Linked DNA regions of Homo sapiens: regions 2, 3 and 4 are each linked to region 1. The links come from fine-mapping of genetic effects on gene expression. A gene starts in region 1. Each other region holds a variant in brackets. All regions are shown on one strand. Distances are from middle to middle.

Evidence for each region. PIP is the estimated chance that this variant, and not a neighbour inherited with it, causes the effect.
Region 2: its variant is the best candidate, but not a certain one, in a credible set for the expression of CTC1 in spleen (GTEx, PIP 0.52).
Region 3: its variant is the best candidate, but not a certain one, in a credible set for the expression of CTC1 in whole blood (INTERVAL, PIP 0.90).
Region 4: its variant is the best candidate, but not a certain one, in a credible set for the expression of CTC1 in whole blood (TOPMed, PIP 0.70).

The regions. Positions count from the first base shown.
Region 1 is chr17:8,245,921-8,251,091 of GRCh38, forward strand. It overlaps CTC1 (CST telomere replication complex component 1), which reads right to left and starts at 2,136. Exons shown (of 23, transcript NM_025099.6): 1 at 2,084-2,136. The coding sequence starts at 2,116. It overlaps PFAS (phosphoribosylformylglycinamidine synthase), which reads left to right and starts at 3,369. Exons shown (of 28, transcript NM_012393.3): 1 at 3,369-3,419. RefSeq lists enhancers at 1,933-2,072, 2,553-2,672, 2,797-3,553 and a silencer at 2,163-2,212.
Region 2 is chr17:8,201,932-8,207,102 of GRCh38, forward strand. AURKB (aurora kinase B) reads right to left here. Exons shown (of 9, transcript NM_004217.4): 6 at 4,819-4,957; 7 at 4,560-4,708; 8 at 3,285-3,459; 9 at 2,803-3,113. The coding sequence ends at 2,940. Among named protein-coding and RNA genes, the nearest start is that of AURKB, 6.1 kb to the right of the region's middle. RefSeq lists an enhancer at 1,768-2,268. The variant A/G (reference allele first, on the strand shown) is at 3,082.
Region 3 is chr17:8,146,824-8,151,994 of GRCh38, forward strand. It overlaps PER1 (period circadian regulator 1), which reads right to left. Exons shown (of 23, transcript NM_002616.3): 2 at 3,609-4,022; 3 at 3,396-3,494; 4 at 3,148-3,302; 5 at 2,932-3,053; 6 at 2,639-2,840; 7 at 2,436-2,487; 8 at 1,821-1,963; 9 at 1,358-1,436; 10 at 1,174-1,280; 11 at 851-1,004; 12 at 647-755; 13 at 427-558; 14 at 74-179. The coding sequence starts at 3,883. Among named protein-coding and RNA genes, the nearest start is that of PER1, 3.0 kb to the right of the region's middle. RefSeq lists enhancers at 3,088-3,735, 4,205-4,314 and a silencer at 4,475-4,574. The variant G/A (reference allele first, on the strand shown) is at 2,274.
Region 4 is chr17:8,215,688-8,220,858 of GRCh38, forward strand. LINC00324 (long intergenic non-protein coding RNA 324) reads right to left here. Exons shown (of 3, transcript NR_026951.1): 3 at 4,943-5,171. Among named protein-coding and RNA genes, the nearest start is that of TRW-CCA1-1, 2.7 kb to the right of the region's middle. RefSeq lists an enhancer at 5,011-5,171. The variant G/C (reference allele first, on the strand shown) is at 2,290.

The DNA.
Region 1 (5,171 bases):
TAGCCTGGCGTGGTAGCACATGCCAGTAGTCCCAGCTACTTGGGAGGCTGAGGTGGGAGGATCACCTTAGCCTGGGAAGGTTGAGACCCGCCTGGGCAACATGGTGAAACTCTAAAACAATTCAAAATTAGCTGGGTTAGCCTGGCGTGGTAGCACACGCCAGTAGTCCCAGCTACTTGGGAGGCTGAGGTGGGAGGATCGCTTGAGCCCAGGGAGGTTGAGGCTGCAGTGAGCCATGATGGTGCCACTGCACTCTAGCCTGGGTGACAGAGTAAGACCTTGTTTCAAAAAAAAAAAAAAAAAAAAAAAGGAGGGAGGAAGAGGAAGATCCAGATTAATACAGGCTGAAGTTTAAGAACACAATATGCTTTCCCACAATTATCTCAACCACTGCATGGGTTTAACAGCCATGGCCAGATGATGATTGTTCCTGTATGTCTACTTTAGCTGAGATCTCATTCCTGAGCTTTAGTCCTATCCATCTGCCAGACTCTCCATGGCCAATCCACAGGCAGCACACATGCCCAACACTGAACTTTCCACAAAACCCTGTCCTTTTCTAGAACTCTTCTAGTGTTATGTTCACTAACTTAGCAAATAGTACCCTTAACCAAACAGTTGTTCTATCCTGAAACCTAGATGTCCTCCTTAGCTCCTTCCTTTCCCTACATAGGTCCCAGTCCTGGCTGGGTGCAGTGGCTCACGCCTGTAATCCCAGCAGTTTCGGAGGCCAAGGCGGGCAGATCACGACGTCAGGAGATCGAGACCATCCTGGCTAACATGGTGAAACACCGTCTGTACTTAAAAAAAAGAAAAAAAATACAAAAATGAGCTGGGCATGGCGGCGCGTGCCTGTATGCCTGTAATTCCAGCTACTCGGGAGGCTGAGGCAGAAGAATCGCTTGAACCTGGGAGGCAGAGGTTGCAGTGAGCCGAGATCGCGTCACTGCACTCCAGCCTGGTGACAAAGCTAGACTCCGTCTCAAAACACACACACACACACACGCACACAAACCAATCCTTTAGATTGTATTTTCTTAACATCTTATTTATTTATTTATTTATTTATTTATTTATTTATTTATTTATTTGAGATGGAGTCTGGCTCTGTCGTCCAGGCTAGAGTGCAGTGGCGCGATCTCGGCTCACTGCAACCTCCACTTCCGTGGTTCCCTGCTCAGCTTCCTGAGCAGCTGGGATTACCGGCGTGTGCCACCACACCCAATTACCCTCATGTTAAAGTCGCTGCTTAGCAAGAGGTACAAAACTGTCAGCTCTGACCCCTCCACCACCACCCAACTGAACTTTTGAGTTTTTCAGACACCTGCTCTATCCTCCTGCCTTTGAATATGTGTTTGCTTCCGTCCTGAAACCCCTTCCGGCGCTTTTTTTTTTTTTTTTTTTTTTTTGACAGAGTCTCGCTCTGTTGCCCAGGCTGGAGTGCTGTGGCACAATCTCAGCTCACTGCAGCCTCCGTCTACCCGGTTCAAGCGATTCTCCTGCCTCAACCTTCTGAGTAGCTGGAATTACAGGTGCGCGCCACCACGCCCGGCTAATTTTTGTATTTTTAGTAGAGATGAGGTTTCACCATGTTGGTCAGGCTGGTCTCGAACTCCTGACCTCAAGTAATCCGCCCGCCTCCGCCTCCCACAGTGCTGGATTACAAGCGTGAGCCACCACACCCAGCCCCTTTCGGCGCTTTTTGCCTTCTACACGCACTTCGGGTCTCAGACGCTTTTACTTATTATGGTTGCCCTTTTCCCCTACAGCTCCGTCAAGGGTCTTCTCCAGGAACCCACAGCCCCATAGTTCCCCCATTAACCTGCTCCTGGTTTCCCACCAGGATTAAACCCTAGAGAGTGAACGGAGACCAGTTTAAGGCTCACAGCGGGCGCCGCGTGAATGAGGGAATAAACATTCGCAGAACCAGTAAGAGGTAGGAGCGGACCGACTCACAACCCCCTCACCCATGGGCCGGACGCGGCCAGCGAGCCCAGAGAGACAAGGCAGAGGAAATAGGAAGAGAAAGAGTATCTGTGACAAACAAGAAAAAAGGAACAAGAGACGTAATAGCAGCACTCACGGAGGAAGGGACCTGGGCCCGGCCAGCCGCCATGATGCGCCGGAGCTCCGCCCCCGGGAGGGGCAGGTGCTCGCTTGGGGGTGGGGATGGGGGTGGGGGGGCGCTCGGTGACGTCACCGGTGAGCGGGTTTCCTCGCCACCTCCAGCTCCTTCTCGCTGCTCACCCCCTCGCTTCCTAGAGACTCCGCGAGGCGCCTCGGTGCACCATCCCAACTCCCGACACCCCTGTCTCTTTTCTCTGATTTTTTTTTTTTTAAGACGAAGCCTGGTTCTGTCGCCCAGGCTGGAGTGCAGTGGCGCGATCTCGGCTCACTGCAACCCCCGCCTCCCAGGTTCAAGGGATTTTCCGGCCTCAGCCTCCTGAGTAGCTAGGATTACAGGCACCTGCCACCACCACGCCCGGCTAATTTTTTTTTTTTTTTTTTTTTTTGTATTTTTAGTAGAGACGGGGTTTCACCATGTGGCCAGGCTGGTCTCAAACTCCTGACCTCAGGTGATCCACCCGCCTCAGCCTCCCAAAGTGCTGGGATTACAGGCGTGAAACACAGCCCCTGGCCCTCTCTGATTTTTTTGAGACGAGGTCTCGCTCTATCGCCCAGGCTGGAGTGCAGCGGCGCCATCTCGGTTCACTGCAGCCTCGACCTCCCGGGCTCAAGCGATCCTCCCACCTCAGCCCACCAAGTAGCTGGGATCGCAGGCTTGCACCGCCACACCCGGCTAATTTTTGTATTTTTCTGTAGCGACATGGTTTCGCCATGTTGCCCAGACTGGTCTCGAACTCCTGGGCTCAAGCGATCTGCCCGCCTCGGGCTCCCAAAGTGCTCGGATTACAGGCGGGAGCCACCGCGCCCAGCCTCCGTCTCCCTCCTAAGTGACATCCTGTCCGGCATCCCGCAGGCCTTCAGATGGATGGGGTAGCAGAGCTCAGGAACTCAAACACAGCCCGCCTGGTGGATGACTTCTAAGCATCTTTCAGTCTCCCTGATCTTGCCAAGCAGAGAAGGGCTTCCTCGTAATGCCACCAAAGCACAACTTTCACATGCTTGCTTTATGGCCTTAACTAACTGATGTCATTACTTAACTGTCCCCGCGGGGACGGGGAACTGAATGTATTTTCACAAACGTCAGTTCAAGACAGATTTGTGGGAGAAACCACCTGGGGATAAACCTCTCCCCACCAAGAACCTAGAATTCGGCCGGGTGGCTGGGGAAAAGTGGGCGGGGCGTAGTCGCCCCGGCGCTGGCAGGTCCAGTCTCTGCCCGCGGCGCACGCGGATGACGTAACAAACGCGCGCGACGATTCGAGGTGCTCTGTGGCCGCGAGTGCATCTTCCACGTGAGTATAGTTACCGCGTGCGGACCTGGATCCTCCTCCAGGTGCAGCGTTTCGTCATCTAGCCCAAGCTTGGTCTGGCGGCTTCAGTATCCCCACCGGGCCGAGCTGTGTCTACTTGGTGCCCGCGTATTTGCTTTAGTGGAGGCGTCCATTCGTCCTATCTTGCGTGCGTTCCGCAGACCCCAGGCATGGCCGACCCCCATGTAAATTTAGCCCCATTGTCCCATTCATGGATTCAGCTAACAGAAAGACTGCCGGCCGCCTACTTTATATCAGGCACCATGCTGGTCATGGAATACAGCCCTCATGCACGCAAACCCTGTCTCTGAGCTCTTGAAGCTTATATTTTACTGGGAATGATAGACGGAAATCAAGTGGCTTAATAAACAAAATGCCTTCAGGAAGACTGTCCTGAAAGTTGGGGAGGGGCTGAAGAGTGGTGAGAATCAAGAGTTCATTAAGTCATTCCACAAGTTTTAGAATTTTTTTGCGTTTCAAGCCCTGGTATTGTTCTAAGCCTTGGTAATTCAATGGAAACGAAGCAGCAACATCCCATGCCCACGTAGAGATTTTTTTTCTAGTGGGGAATATAGAGCGAAAAATAAAAACATCCAATAGTGATAAGCGCTTTACAGGAAATTAAAATAGGGCCGGCCATCTGATAGTAACTACTTGAGTGGCTAGTGAAGCCTTTTCCACGAAGGCGAATCACCAGAAATCTAAATAACAAGAGCTAGCCATGCATATGTCAGGGTGAAAAAAATGCCTTCCAGGACTGAGCTTGGCAAGTTAGAGAAATAAAAAAGAAGCTAATGTGTGGTTGGTGCATTGTGGGTGAAAAAGAGAATGGTGTGAGATAGGGTTGGAAAGGTAGGCCAGAGAGTGGCCAGACTTGGTAAACCAGGATGCTGAGTTGGAATTTATACCATGTGTAATGGGAAGCCATAATCCACTTTATGCTGATGTGTGACAAATGAATTGTGGTTATGCAGTGGTCAGGAGGTTAATGCATTGGTCCAGGTGAGTGATGGTGGTGGCTTACTTGAACTAGAGTGAGGTAGTAGAGATGAAGAGATGAGAGATTTGAGACATGATTGGAAATAGATTTCCTGGTGGATTGGATTTAGAGAGTCTGAGGGAAAGAGAATTAAGGATGACTTCTGTGTTTTTGTCTTGAGCAACAAATTGGATGATGGTAGTGTTTACTGAGTGGCAAGACTAGGGGAACAGCAGAGTTTGGTGAGTAAAGCCAGGGTCCCGCTGAGAGGCAGTGGGACCAGAAATTGGATAGGTAGTTTGGGATAGATGGGGAGGGCCTTTGAATGTTAGGCTAAAAGTATTAACTGTAATAGTTCTGTTGCCTGATGCACACTGGAGGTCAATACACCAAGACACCAGGTTGCAGCAGAGAAAGAGGTTTAATCATAGGGCTGCTGAACAAGGAGACAGGAGGAAACCTCAAATCCATCTCCCAGAGTACTTTGGGGCTAGGGTTTTTAAAAAAGAGTTTGGAATAGGATTAGGATGAAGTGTGAAAATCATTGATTGAAGAGTGCAGGGTGAGGTCATGAAACAGGGAGATGAAGAAACTGATTCTCATGCTCACTTGGTTCCACTGTGGGAGTCTTTTTTTTTTTTTATTTTTTTTAATTTGAAAGATGAGGTCTGCCTGGCGCAGTCGCTCACGCCTATAATCCCAGCACTTTGGGAGGCTGAGGTGGGTGGATCACGAGTTCAAGAGATTGAGACCAT
Region 2 (5,171 bases), 44 kb before region 1:
GATGGGTGAAGTGGCTCATGCCTGTAATCCCAGCACTTTGGGAGACCCAGACGGGTGGATCACTGGAGGTCAGGAGTTTGAGACCAGCCTGGCCAACATGGTGAAACCCATCTCTACTAAAAATACAAAAATTATCTGGGCGTGGTGGCACATGCCTGTAATCCCAGCTACTCGGGAGGCTGAGGCAGGAGAATCGCTTGATCCTGGGAGGTGGAGGTTGCAGTGAGCTGAGATTGTGCCACTGCACTCCAGCATGAGTGACAAAGCAAAACTCCGTCTCAAAAAATAAAAAATAAATAAGCACCCCGCCCATTTCTTTCTCCCTAGAGATAGCCAGTTCCAAGTCTTTTCACTGTTTTATTTTGATTTGCTTTGGGTATTTACCATACTTTTTTTTTTCTTGAGGCGGAGTATCACTTTGTCGCCAGGCTGGAGTGCAGTGGCTTGACCTCGGCTCACTGCAACCTCTGTCTCCCGGGTTCAAGAGATTCTCCTGCCTCAGCCTCCCTAGTAGCTGGGACTACAGGCACACACCACCATGCCCAGCTAATTTTTGTATTTTTAGTAGAAGCAGGGTTTGACCATGTTGGCCAGGATGGTCTTGATCTCTTGACCTCGTGATCCGCCCGCCTTGGCCTCCTAAAGTGCTGGGATTACAGGCATGGCCTACTGAGCCTGGCCTACCATACATTTTTTTTAAGTTGTTAAACAACAGTCACGTATATTTTATTTTTATTTTTTTAATTTTTACGTTCTCAGGGTGTACAAGTACAGATTTCTTTTTTTTTTTTTCAAAAGGAGTCTTGCTCTTGTTGCCCAGGCTGGAGTGCAATGGCGTGATCTCAGCTCATTGCAACCTCTGCCTTCCGGATTTAAGCAATTCTCCTGCCTCAGACTCCCAAGTAGCTGCGATTACAGGCGTGCACCACCACACCCGGCTAATTTTGTATTTTTTTAGTAGAGACAGAGTTTCACCATGTTGGTCAGGCTGGTCTCGAACTCCTGACCTCAGGTGATCCACCTGCCTTGGCTTCCCAAAGTGTTGGGATTACAGGCCTGAGCCACCACGCCCAGCCCCTACCATACGTTTTTAAATCACATGCTTCCGTTGCTGCTTCTTAAGTTTTCAGTTTTAGGCATGACCTGTTTTTTTCCTGCTATAAAATTCAAGGAATTCACTCTTCCACCCCACTGCCACCATAATTTTGGTTAGATTTATTCATTTGACAGTAGTTACTGAGTGTCCTCTACATTCCGGGTACTGTTCTAGAGGCTTGGTGTAAAGCAATGAATTAAGAAAAAAAAAAAAAAATCAATCAATCCTGCCAGGCGCAGTGGCTCACGCCTGTAATCCCAGCACTTTGGGAGGCCGAGGTGGGCAGATTGCTTGAGGTCGGGAGTTCAAGACCAGCCTGGCCAACACAGTGAAACCCCGACCCGGTCTCCACTAAAAATACAAAAATTAGCCAGGAGTGGTGGCACATGTCTGTAATACCAACTACACGGGAGGCTGAAGCAGGAGAATCACTTGAGCCCGGGAGGCGGAGGCTGCAGTGAGCTGAGATCACACCACTGCACTCTGGCCTGGGCGACAGAGCAAGACTCTGTTTCAAAAAAAAAAAAAAAAACTTGTCCAGGCGTGGTACGCCTGTAATCCCAGCACTTTGGGAGGCCGAGGAGGGTGGATCACCTGAGGTGAGGAGTCCGAGAGCAGCCTGGCCAACATGGTGAAACCCCATCTCTACTAAAACTACAAAAAAATTAGCCAGGCTTGGTGGCGTGCGCCTGTAATCCCAGCTACTTGGCTGGCTGAGGCAGGAGAATAGCTTGAACCTGAAAGGAGGTTGGAGGTTGCGGTGAGCCAAGATCGGGCCACTGCACTCCAGCCTGCATGACAGGGTGAGACTCCGTCCTGCTGTGTAGCCAGGCTGGAGTGCATTGGTGCGATCTGGTCTTGCTGCAGCCTCCACCTCCCGGGTTCAACCGATTCTCCTGCCTCAGCTTCCTGAGTAGCTGGGACTACAGGTGTGCACCACCACGCTCAGCTAATTTTTGTATTTTTAGTAGAGATGGGATTTCACCATGTTGGCCAGGATGGTCTCGATCTCCTGACTTTGTGATCTGCCTGCCTCGGCCTCTGAAAGTGCAGGGATTACAGGCATGAGTCACTGCGCCCAGACTTAACTGTTTTTTTGTTTTTGTTTTTTTTTTTAAAGACTCTGAGTAAACTATGAGTAGAATAGGCCCTGTTTAACCTGATAAAGGGTATCTATCAAAAACCTACAGCAAGCATCATGCATAACAGTGTAACCTCATGTCAGGAACAAGACAGAATCACTGCTGCTTCTATTGGCTCCTGTACTAGATCCTGACCAGAGCAGTGAAATAATCAAAGACAGCTTCTAGGGTACAGAACTGTTTAGTTGCTCCTACGTTGGCAAAGGGGCAGAGAATGAAACAGAAAAGGAAAAACTAGAAGTTGGACAACCAAGAGAGAGGTGAAAGAAGGTGGCCAGAGATGGCTGGTGTTCCAATGTAGCAATGGGGAGCCAGGGCCCCCAGTGCCCCTGGGCTGTGGGAGTCTGAGCAACGGAAAGAATAGACAGTGAGGGTAGAGGTGGAAGTGGGGGTAGGGGTTGGGGTGGCTGGGAGCTGACCAGGTGGGTGTCAGAGCTGAGAGGGTAGGGTGTTACCAGGGATAGCAAAGTAATGCTCATCCCGGCTCCTCAGGGTGAGCCAGCTCTCCTTCTAGGGAACAGCTTCCTCCACAGCAAAGCCTCCACCTAGAAACATCTACACTCATGAGTACAAAAAGCTTCAGCCTTTATTAAACAAAGGAGGAGGTAGAAAACAGATAAGGGAACAGTTAGGGATCCCTTCTTTCCCCTATACATACACAGACATACAAACACACGCACCCGAGTGAATGACAGGGACCATCAGGCGACAGATTGAAGGGCAGAGGGAGGCAGCACCCTCCGAGAGTTGGCCCGGACCCAAGGGTGGGCTGAGACCTGGGCCAGGGGCAGCCGTTCCGAGGGGTTATGCCTGAGCAGTTTGGAGATGAGGTCCTGGGCTCCC[A/G]TGGGCACGGAAGCGGGGAACTTTAGGTCCACCTGCAGGTGTGAAGAGATGGAAGGGCTGCATTAGTTTCACCCTGGCTACATCTTCCTTGACTACCCATTCTGTTTGGAGTTACTTAGGGCCATGCAAATACACTCTGCCCACCCCCAGCCCCCCAGCTCCTGGCTTCAGCAGCTGGCACGAAGCCCAGGCCGCCCTCCCACCTTGACGATGCGGCGATAGGTCTCGTTGTGTGATGCACTCTCAAAGGGTGGGTTCCCCACCAGCAGCTCATAGCAAAGCACTCCAATGCACCACAGATCCACCTTCTCATTGTGCATGCGCCCCTCAATCATCTCTGGGGGCAGGTAGTCCAGGGTGCCACACATTGTCTTCCTCCTGGGAGGGATAAGGGGCGTGGGCAGGGGTCCTAGTGACATAGGAACTCTCCTTTCCCTGCTGCCTGACGGCTGGGAGCCAAAAGACCACGGGATGTACCAGGGGAGAGGTCCAGCCAGGCAAGGCCACTGGAGTGGGGGTGGGGTTGGGGTGATGATATATCCCAAAGCCCCAGAGGTGAGCCTGCACACAGCCCAGCAACTCCACACTGAAGGATATATCTTAATAAGATACCCTGATATGAGGGCAGTGTTCATTTGGAGTTCACTGGGGACATCTCTAATGCCCATCAGGCATGTTCTGGTTAAATAAATCAGCTACTATGTGATACTATGAAACCATTAAAAAGTGATGTGGGAGGAAAAAAGGCCACTGCTCCGGGCTTTTTTTGAGAGAGTCCAGGCTGGAGTGCAGTGGGGCGATCTTGGCTCACTGCAACCTCTGCCTCCCGGGTTCAAGTGATTCTCATGTCTCAGCCTCCCGAACAGCTGGGATTACAAGTGTGCACCACCATGTCTGCTTAATAAATTTTGTGTTTTTAGTAAAGATGGGGTTTCATCATGTTGGCCAGGCTGGTCCGCTGGTCTTGAACTCCTGGCCTCAAGTGATCCACCCGCCTTGGCCTCCCAAAGTGCTGGGACTGGTAGGCGTGAGCCACCGCGCCTGGCCAAAGTTTTACCATTGGCCCCTACAGGGATCAAACCTGCGACCTTGGGGTTATTAGCACCACACTCTAACCATTTTTTTTTTTTTTTTTTGAGACAGAGTCTCGATCTGTCACACAGGCTGGAGTGCAATGGCGTAATCTCGGCTCACTGCAACCTCCGCCTCCCAGGTTCAAACAATTCTCCTGCCTCAGCCTCCCCAGTAGCTGGGATTACTGGCGTCCGCCACCATGGCCGGCTAATTTTTGTATATTTAGTAGAGACAAGGTTTCATCATGTTGGCAAATCTAGTCTCGAACTCCTGACCTCAGGTGATCCGCCCTCCTCGGCCTCCCAAAGTGCTGGGATTACAGGTGTGAGCCACGGTGCACGGCCCCTGGAGAGGTTTTAATGGCCCAGCCTCACACCCAGGTCTGGCCTCCCAGGCCACCATACCTCAGGGAGGGCGCATGCACAGACCAGCCGAAGTCAGCAATCTTCAGCTCTCCCTTGAGCCCTAAGAGCAGATTTTCTGGCTTTATGTCTCTGTGAATCACCTTCTTCCCATGGCAGTACATTAGAGCATCTGCCAACTCCTCCATGATCTGGGAGGGGCAACGACAGGCAATCAGACAAGGATGGACCTCCAGCTACAAGCAGCACACCCTCAGCCTCGAGCCCCCTACTGGCGCCCCAGGTGCCCACCCGCCCGGACCGTGGCTGTTCGCTGCTCGTCAAATGTGCAGCTCTTCTGCAGCTCCTTGTAGAGCTCCCCGCGGGGGGCATACTCTAGAATCAAGTAGATCCTCCTCCGGTCATAAAAATAGTTGTAGAGACGCAGGATGTTGGGATGGCTGGGGGAAGAGACAGAGGAGGCCTCAGGCCAAAGGCATAAAAGAGCTGGAAAAGATGATAGGAGCAAACTGGGGTCAGACGTGGCCCAGGCCGGGGACACCAGGGCTGGGAGTGGTAAGGGGAAACTGGAGGCAGATTTCTGGATTCAAGGCTTGCCAGGACTAAGAGCTAAATGGGGCTCACTAGCCATAGCTACAGAGAAAGCAATCTGGA
Region 3 (5,171 bases), 99 kb before region 1:
CAAATGGGTTGGGGGTGAAGGTCAGGGGACCCCCCAGGTCTGTCTCTTCACCCACACATCATCATCAACTCACCAGGGAGGCGGGGCCGGGACTGAGGCCGGGCCCGAGACTCAATAAAAAGCTGCTGGCCCTGGTGCTTCACCAGATGCACATCCTTACAGATCTGCTGGAAAGTCACCTGTGGGACACAGCACCACAGTGAGCAGAACCAGGGGGTGTCGCCAGTGTCAGGGGCCAAGGGCACAATAAAACAAGAAGGTACCAGTGGGGAGGCACAGACGCCTTGATGGGAGCAGGACAAGAAGGAAAAGGCAGGAAGGAGAGGGCAAAGGAGGATCGGGCAAGACTCTGGGACTGGCAGTGCTGGTTCCAAGAAGGAGAGGGGAAAGGGCGATTAGAGGGTGAGGTAGGAGCAGGTCACTCACTGGCGCAGGAGGCCCAGGCCCCTCTGCATCACCCCCGTTGCTATCACTGGAGGACCCAGGGCTGTGGAGAGGGCCTGGGGATGTCACGGCGCCGACTCCACAGAGTCCCGTGGGGCTGGGGCTGTGGACGGGCTGCAGCAGGGAGAGGGCAGGTTAGATGGCTTGACCCGGCTTCCCACACCTTTTCTCACCTCCCAGGCTCCCTCTCCGCTACTCTCACCTGCAGCAGCAGCCGGTGGATCTGCTCTGACAGCTCCTGGATATCAGTGTCCAGGGAGGGAGCTGGGCTGGGGGCCGGGGGAGTGAACACGTCCTCATTCAGGGGGGCCCTGTAGAGTGAAGAGTGAATCCAGCCCTGGCCCGGTCCTGTCCCCCACCGCACTGCCCTATCCCCAACGCCAGCTCGGGGGCATGGCCCACTTACGTGCGTACTTTGTGGCGGCCCAACACGAAGGCTACCTTGCGGCTCCAGGGGTGCACAAAGCCAGCCCAGCTGGTGTCCATGGTGACATACTCCCCGTTGCGGGCACAGAAGCGGATAGGGGAGTGGTCAAAGGGCTGGCCCGCCAACTGCAGAACTGATGGAAGTGGGAAAGGAGGAGCGGTCAAAGGGAGGGAGAGCTGAGTAAGAGGGAGGCCATGCCACTAGAGATCCAGGAGACCAAGGCACCAAGAGACACAACCACAAGGGCAGCCACTCAAAAGCCCAGGACAGTGGGAAGGGCGAGCAGGGCGAGAGGAACTCACTCTTCTTGTGGATAGCCAGCATGAGGGGTCGGTCCTCAGGATGCAGGAACAGGAGCACTGGGGCCCCCAGGAGGTCCTGGGGCAGGTAGCCCAGCAGGGGGGCAGCCCTGAACGGGAAGGAGGCATCAGAGTGGCCGTGGCCTCAGCCCTGGCTGCCCTCGTCTCCTCTAGGTCCTATCCTCACCTTTCATCCACATCCTGGAAGAGGCAGCTGGGTGTGTGCCGCGTAGTGAAAATCCTCTTGTCAGGGGGTATCCGGGGAGCTGAGGCACAGAGAGTGTGGTCACTGGGTTTCGTCCAGAATGCCCAACTCCTCAGCCCTCCACTCTGCCTGGGCCCAGGCTGGCTGATGATCTGCCACACAGCTCTGCCCCGGGCACTATGGGCCCAAAGATGGTCTGGGCCAATCCTATGCCCTGTATCAGTAACATGACTGAGAGCAAGCAAGGCATTCTTCTCTGCCCTCCTCTAGCTTGGGCACCTTATTCAACTCTACCTCTAAGAGGAGCTCAAATCCTCATCTTTACAATAGCTTTTCTTGTTCCAAAATTCAAAGGGTGTGGTTCATGCCTCCCAAATTCATGTCTGGCCATGAGGAAATGTCCTTCCTCCCAGCCCCCACCAGGCCAGGGCCCTGACCTGCCCACCTTCGTAACCCGAATGGATGCGCTCTGCAATCAGCAGGCAGCACGGCTGTGCAGGGGCCCCATCTGAGACCCGGATCTTGGTCACATACGGGGTTAGGCGGAATGGCTGGTACCGAGGCCCTGGATCCCGGTCAGGACCTCCTCTAGCAAAGGAGAGAGGAGCATTAGGGACTTTCAACAGAGAGCCACCCACTCCTCCAACAATAAGGTCACAGCAGACAACAGCAAAGACGCTGGGGAGGGGGCAGGAGGAGGCAGAGGTAGGCCGGGCACGGTGGCTCACGCCTTTAATCCCAGCACTTTGGGAGGCCAAGGCAGGCGGATCACCTGAGGTCAGGAGTTCGAGACCAGCCTGGCCAACATGGTGAAACCCCGTCTCTACTGAAAATACAAAAATTAGCTGGGCGTGGTGGCGCATGCCTGTAATCCCAGCTACTTGGGAGGCTGAGGCAG[G/A]AGAATCGCTTGAACCTGGGAGGCGGAGGTTGCAGTGAGCCGAGATCGTGCCACCGCAGTCCAGCCTGGGTGACAGAGTGAGACTCCCTTTCAAAAAGCAAAAACAAAAACAAAAACAAAAAAAAAAGGAGGCAGAGGTCTTCTCCAGTTCCCCTCACCTACCTGATACGGCAGAAGACGGACTTCTCCTGGGTAAAGTCCCTGAGGCCTGAACCTGGGACAGACAGGAGAGGAGTGAGCACAGCTTCCTGCCCCTTCCCTAGGCTGCGAAGAATCCACTAAGGGAAAGTCTGGGTTCCCCGGCCCCTCACAGCAGGAATTTCCTGGGACTGCTCATGCCTCCCCACAGCGCTTGGGCACCTCACCTGCTGAGGCCCCTGTGCCCCAGGTGGGCAGGCGAGATGGAGCAGTGGAACCATAGAAGACTCCCACATCCTGGGGAGCCAGGAGCTCAGAGAAGCGGGTACCCCGGAACACGTCCCGCTTGCAACGCAGCAGGACGGCTGCCTGCTCCGAAATGTAGACGATTCGGCCCGTCAGGAAGGAGACAGCCACTGAGAAGGTATCCTGGCAGGAGGGGGAGAGCAAGAGCAGATTCAAGAGCTGTGGGAGAAGGAGTAGGGGTGCGTCGGGATGCAGAGGCCAGGCCGCCGCTGACCTGGTTCTGAAGTGTGTACTCAGACGTGATGTGCTCCAGCTCCTCCAGGGTATAGGTGGACATGTCCATGGAGCAAGGCTCGCCCTCCTCCAGGCTCCACTGCTGGTAGTATTCCTGGTTGGCTGCAGAGTGGAGGCAGTGAGGCATTCAGTAAGGAGGCTGCCTCAACACGGGAGCCCAGGCCCAGGCCATTCCCTCTTGGGACACACCACTTACCCTGCACCTGCTTGACACAGGCCAGTGCGTACTGCAGCGTGGCCAGGGTCCCAGAGCGGCCCTTGCCCCGGCGCTCTGGCGGCAGTCGAAGCTTGAGCTCTCGAAGTGCTGTCATGAGTTCCTTCTGAGTCCTTGCCCGGGCTGACTGTTCACTGCTGCGGGGCCCACAGGGAAGAAAGAGATAAAGACATTAGTCCCAGAGTGTGGCCTGGGCCCCCAGACCTCTCCTCCAGCCTCACCCGACGTACCTGCAGCCACTGGTGGACGGGTTGTCCTGCTCTGAGCTGGCACTCAGGAGGCTGTAGGCAATGGAACTGCTGGGTGGGGATGGGCTCTGAGAGTTTGTGCTAGGAGACAGCAACAGGCCCAGTTACAGGTAGGGCCAGCAGTGCGAGGCCTGTCACCCAGCTCTGCCTGCTCACAAGACCATTCCTAGACCCAACATACACATCCATACACACCTCTTGCTGCTCTCAGTGGTCTCCAGCAGGGCTGAGTCCTTGCCGTTGCCTGAGGAGGAGCTGTGTGAGCTCCGCTGAGATGCGCCTCTAGACTCATGCCCGTTGGACTCATTGCCACTTGAACCATTGCTGTTGGCATCGGTGTCATCGGCCAGGCTGGGGCCTGGGCAAGGCCGGTGCTGTGGGGGCCCAGGGGATGGGACGCCCCCAGGACAAAATGATTCCCCAGGCCTGGGGTCCCCTCCCCCATCAGCCCCTTCTAGGGGGCCACTCATGTCTGGGCCATGGGGAGAACAGAACAGAGAAGGCAGAGAGGCCACCACGGATGCACGAGGGGGCCTGGAGGCTTGGCTGAGGGAGTGAGGTGGAAGATCTAAGTCTCTGAGGGTTGAGAAGTTCGATCACAGCCAGTACCTGGAGAGGGAGACCAGGAAGCAGGGCTTGCAGAAAGCTGGTTTAACTCCAGAGCACCTGCTGGCTTCACTCAGACCTTCCCCCTGCCTGGCCTCCTGCAGGACTGATGGGAGTGGAACCCAGGCCTGGGGCTTCCAATGGGGAGTCAGGATGTCTCCTGTACCCTTAGGGGGACTGCCAGCGGGAGAAGGTTCTCCGGGGCCTTCCTTCACATCCCCTGCCACCATGGCCTGAGCAGTCAATGAGAACCACGGCTGTAGACAAAAACCTGGACACTTCCCATTCCCAAGTTCCCATTAGGTGTCCACTCTGCCTGGGCCTCCAAGGCCTCGGAGCAGGAGGTGAGCTGGTCGCCTCCTATATTTAGGCCTCCAGGCTAATTTTATCCGGGGGCGGTGCCACCCCCGCTGCACATGCGCGCCGACGTGCGCGGCCCCACCACGCGCTTCCGCCGCCGCCACGGTCGCCAGGGAAACCGACGTCAGCTGCTGAGCTCAGCGGTTGCTGGAGGGACCACAGGAGGGCGGGAGGAGCGACCCCTCCCCCATTTCCCGGCGGAAGTGGGGGAACGGCCCACTCTCACACTGGTGGGCGCGGCCGGGGGGGTCACGCATCCCTTACATATCCCCAGTCCCAGGATGGCTCGGTGGCCGTAAGAAGTGGGACGGCCTATTAGGATCCCAGGGTTGGTCCTGGCTTCCCCAGGACGAAGCACAACGGCCACTGCCCTCGGCGCAAAAGCCCCTCAACCTGACTCTCGCCTGGATCCCAGTCATTCTGGTCAAGACAACACAACCTTTCCTTCTTTAGCCCCTGCGCTGCTTCCCCACCACAAGGACCGAAGCCGGCAACCTGCCATCGTCAAGGACCCGAGGATCCTCTCTCTTCAGTCCCCTACTTTTCTGGCCAGACCCCCCCACCAACCCCAAGCCTTGGGCAGAAGACACACAACAGCCAACAGATCTTTCTTCCCCTACTCCCCGTCCAACCACACCCCTACTACTGAGCATTTTCTGAGCGCCAGGGGAAAAGGGAAGGTTGTGGCCAACAGCAGGAACCAGCGCTGGGAACGGGATGTTCTAGTCCGAAGTGGGCTGACATCACAGGCGGCGCAGGGCCAGGGACTGGAGAACAGAGACACGGGGAGCG
Region 4 (5,171 bases), 30 kb before region 1:
AATGTCATATATCCATAAAATAGAAACTTACTTAGTCCTAAGAGGAATGAAGTACTGATATTTTATTTCATGGAAACCATGAAAACAGTATAAACAAAAGAGGCTAAGCTGAGCACAGCAGCTCATGGCTGTAGTCCCAGCACTTTGGAAGGCTAAGGTGGGCAGATCCCTTGAGCCCAGAAGTTCCAGACCAGCCTGGGCAACATGGCGAAATCCCGTCTCTACAAAAAATACAAACATTAGCCAGGTGTGGTGGTGGGCACCTGTAGTCCCAGCTACTCAGGAGGCTGAGGCAGGAGAGCCGTTGAACCCAAGAGGCACAGGTTGCAGTGAGCCAAGATCGTGCCATTGCACTCCAGCCTGGGCAACAGAGCAAGACTCCGTCAAAAAAAAAAAAAAAAGATAGAAAGTTCACATATTATATGATTGCATTTACATGCGATATCCAGCATAATATCCAGCATAAGCAAATCCACTGGGACAGAAACAGATTAGTGGTTTCCAGAGACTAGGGGAAGGGAGAAGGGGGAATACAGAGTGAGTGCCAATGGTTTCTTTTTGGGGGGGGGGTGATTAAAATGTTCTGGAATTAAATAGTGATGATTGATGCACCACTGTGAGAATATACCAGAAACTCTTAATTGTACACTTTAAAATGGTTAAAATGGTAAAATTTATGTTAAGTATAATTTACCACAAAAAATTATAAAATATCTTTTTTTTTTTTGAGATGGAGTCTTGCTCTGTTTCCCAGACTGGAATGCAGTGGCATGATGATCTCAGCTCACCACAACCTCTGCCTCCTGCGTTCAAGTGATTCTCCTGCCTCAGCTTCCCAAGTAGGTGGGACTACAGGCGTGTGCCACCATGCCCAGCTAATTTTTGTATTTTTAGTAGAGATGGGGTTTCACCATGTTGGTCAGGCTGTTCTCGAACTCCTGACCTCGTGATCCGCCTGCTGCAGCCTCCCAAAGTGCTGGGATTACAGGCCTGAAGCCACCGCTCCCGGCTCTTTTTTATTTATTTATTATTATTATTATTTTGTCTTTTTTTTCTTCCTTTTTGTGGAGAACAGGGTCTCGCTATATTGCCCAAGCAGGTCTCGAACTCCTGGGCTCAAGCTATCCTCCCACCTCTGCCTCCATGAGAGCTGGGATTACAGGCATGAGCCACCACGCCCGGCCTTATTATTATTATTTTGAAATGGAGTTTCACTCTTGTTGCCCAGGCTGGAGTGCAGCAGTGCAATCTCAGTTCACTGCAACCTCTGCCTCCCCGGTTCAAGCGATTCTCTTGCCTCAGCTTCCCAAGTAGCTGGGATTACAGGCGCCCGCCACCATTCTGGCTAATTTTTTTTTTTTTTTTTTTTGAGACACAGTGTTGCTCTTGTCGCCCAGGCTGGAGTGCAATGGGGTGATCTTGGTTCACTGCAACCTCTGCCTCCCAGGATTACAGGCGTGGGCCACCATGCCTAGCTAATTTTTGTATTTTTAGTACAGACAGGGGTTTCCTCATTTTCACCAGGCTGGTCTCGAACTCCTGACCTCAGGTGATCCACCCACCTTGGCCTTCCAAAGTGCTGGGATTACAGGCGTGAGCCGCCACACCCATCCAGGAATACACTTTAAAGGCACTTGTGTGACTGCTATTAAATTAGTCAAATCTTAACACATTTTGCTATATTTGTTTATGATGTTTTTTTAAATGAACTAAAAGGCATACAGGTGGAGTTCCAGTGTAAAATTTCTTTTTTTTTTTTTTGAGACGGAGTGTCGCTCTGTCCCCCAGGGTGGAGTGCGGTGGCGCGATCTTAGCTCACTGCAAGCTCCGCCTCCCGGGTTCACGCCATTCTTCTGCCTCAGCCTCCCTAGTAGCTGGGACTACAGGCACCCGCCACCACGCCTGGCTATTTTTTTTTTTTTTTTTTGTATTTTTAGTAGAGACGAGGTTTCACCGTGTTAGCCAGAATGGTCTCGATCTCCTGACCTCGTGATCCACCCGTCTCGGCCTCCCAAAGTGCTAGGATTACAGGCATGAGCCACCAGGCCCGGTCAGTAAAATTTCAAGAAGTAGGCCGGGCGCTGTGGCTCATGCCTGAAATCCCAGCACTTTGGGAGGCCGAGGTGGGTGGATCACGAGGTCAGGAGATCGAGACCATCCTGGCTAAGACGGTGAAACCCCGTCTCTACTAAAAATACAAAAAAAAAATTAGCCGGGCGTGATAGCGGGTGCCTGTAGTCCCAGCTACTAGGGAGGCTGAGGCAGGAGAATGGCGTGAACCCAGGAGGC[G/C]GAGCTTGCAGTGAGCCGAGATCACGCCACTGCACTCCAGCCTAGGCGACAGACAGAGACTCCGTCTCAAAAAAAAAATATTTTCAAGAATTAGGTCTAGGTATATTGTTTCTCTACCATTTTCTTCTGTGGTTGTTATGGATGAAATTGTGTTTCTCCAAAATCCATATGATAAAGCTTTAACACCCAATGTAAATGTATTTCTAGACACAGCTTTAGGGAGGTAGTTAAGGTTAAATGAGGTCATTTGAGTGGAATCCTAATCCTACAGGGCTGGCATCCTTAGGAGAAGAGGGAGAGACTCCAGAGTTCTCTCTTTCCCTGTCGGCACAGAGGAAAGGCCATGTGAGGACACTGCAAGAAGGCGGCATGTAGAAGCCGGCAAGAGAGGCCTCAGCAGACACCAACCCTGATAACATCTTGATCTTGGACTTTGAGCCTCCAGAACAGTGAGAAAATAAATATCTGTTGTTTAAGCCACGCAGTCTACGGCATTTTGTTATGGTAGCCTGAGCAGACTAATACAGATTCTAAGGTCAGTGGAAAACTACAAGCGGAAGCACTCAGTTCAGATAGGACTACTAGTGGCTTAGACCCTTCAGGAACAAGGTTTGGGTCTCCCTACGAGGGAAATAACCAGGACCAGTTGAGGGGCTTGTTGAAGACAATGGGAAGACAAAATGGGTAATAGAAGAAGCTAGTTAGGCCAGGTGCGGTGGCTCATACCTTTATTCCCAGCATTTTAGGGGGCTGAGGCGGGAGGATCACCTGAGGTCAGGAGTTCGAGACCAGCCTGGCCAACATGATGAAACCCCGTCTCTACTAAAAATATAAAAAAAAGGCTGTGCACAGTGGGTCACGCCTGTAATCCCAGCACTTTGGGAGGCCGAGATGGGTGGATCACCTGCACTCTACTGCACTCCAACCTGAGTGACAGAGCGAGACTCCATCTCAAGAAAAAAAAAAAAAAAAAAGAAGCAGCAGCAGCAGCAGCAGCTAGTTATCAGCTACCACTACGTGGCCAGTTAGAGAAACAAGGACTGTAAGTGTATTTCCTTTTTTTTTTTTTTTTTGAGACGGAGCGTCAATCTGTCGCCCAGGTTGGAGTGTAATGGCATGATCTCAGCTCACTGCAACCTCCGCCTCCCAAGCTCAAGTGATTCTCCTGCCTTAGCCTCCTAAGTAGCTAGGATTACAGGCATGTGCCACCATGCCTGGTTAATTTTTTTTGTATTTTGAGTAGAGACGGGGTTTCACCATGTTGGCCAGGCTGGTCTCAAACTCCTGACCTCAGGTGATCTGCCCACCTCGGCATCCCAAAGTGCTGGGATTACGGGCGTGAGCCACCACACCTGGCTGTATTTCTTCTTTATTTTGTTACGAATATATCTGTGTGTGTGTTTCAGCTAATAAATGTACACAAAATGATAGAATTAGGAAATGATCATTTTGCATCTCCTTATGAAATAATTAATGCAGGCAAGGTTTTCTGGTTGCCCTGGCAGTGAGAATGGTGGTGGGACTGCTTGGTAGCCAGCCTCACAGCCAGCTCCGCCTTAGGTCGCCAGAGTTTCTATGCTGTTACCTTGCTCAGGTCATCAGCAGTTCTTCAAGCACCATTTCTGCAAGGACTGGTCAACTGTCTGCCTTTGTCTTGTACATAGTGATACAGTGACACAGAGACAGCTATGGCAGAAGGTGGGCAGGGGCAAGAAAGGGGAAGGAAAGCGGAGCACAGATTTTAACCTGGGCAATGTCTGCTGTGTGGATGGTGGTGAGATGGCCCAAATTCTTCCCCATCAACCAAAGCCAGTCACACTTAGAAAGGTATTGTTAGTGGAGGAGAGAGAGGTGAAGGGAATAAATTTCCCATTGGAAAAGACAAGGCATATAGGGTGGGTGGCCTGGATTTCTTTCTTTCTTTTTCTTTTTCTTTCTTTCTTTTTTTTTTTTTTTTTTTGAGAGAGAGTGTCCCTCTGTCGCCAGGCTGGAGTGTAGTGGTGCCAATCTCCGCTCACTGCAACCTCTGCCTCCGGGGTTCAAGCGATTCTCCTGCCTCAGCCTCCCAAGTAGCTGGGACTACAGGCATGCGCCACCACGCCCAGCTGATTTTTGTAGTTTTTAGTAGAGACGGGGTTTCACCAAGTTGGCCAGGATGGTCTTGATCTCTTGACTTCGTGATCTGCCCGCCTGGGCCTCCCTAAGTGCTGGGATTACAGGCGTGAGCCATCCCATCCCACCGGTTTTGTTTTTCAATATACTGGAAGCAGCCAAAATGCACGTGGTCCTGGGCTTCTAGTGACTGCTGGGAAGTCTGGAGAAAGGTAATATTTGTATTTAATATCCTTGTGTTCAGTGTTAAGTAAACATACCTAGAACAGCAGAGATTATTAAAAACATTTAAAAAGGCCGGGCACAGTGGCTCACGCCACTAAAATACAAAATTATCCGGGCGTGGTGGTGCATGCCTGTAATCCCAGCTACTCGGGACGCTGAGGCAGGAGAATCCCTTTGAACCCGTGGGCGGAGGTTGCGGTGAGCCGCGATAGTGCCATTGCATTCCAGCCTGGGCAACAAGAGAGAAACTCCGTCTCAAGGGAAAAAAAAATACAAACAAAAAATAATAATTTAAAAAATTATTTAACAATTTCCATACAACAGGGAATTTTTTTATTTTTAAATTTATTTTTACTTTTATAGACCTTAGGGATACATGCGCAGTTTTGCCACAGGGATATATCACATAATGTTGAAAGTCTGCACCCAACTTCTGAATAACGTTCATATTTGTCTCATTCCCCTCCTATCCTTCTACTGAGGAGGCTTTTTTTTTTTCCTATCCTGAAAAATGTCACCGTAGGTCTATTTGATTAGGGAAAACA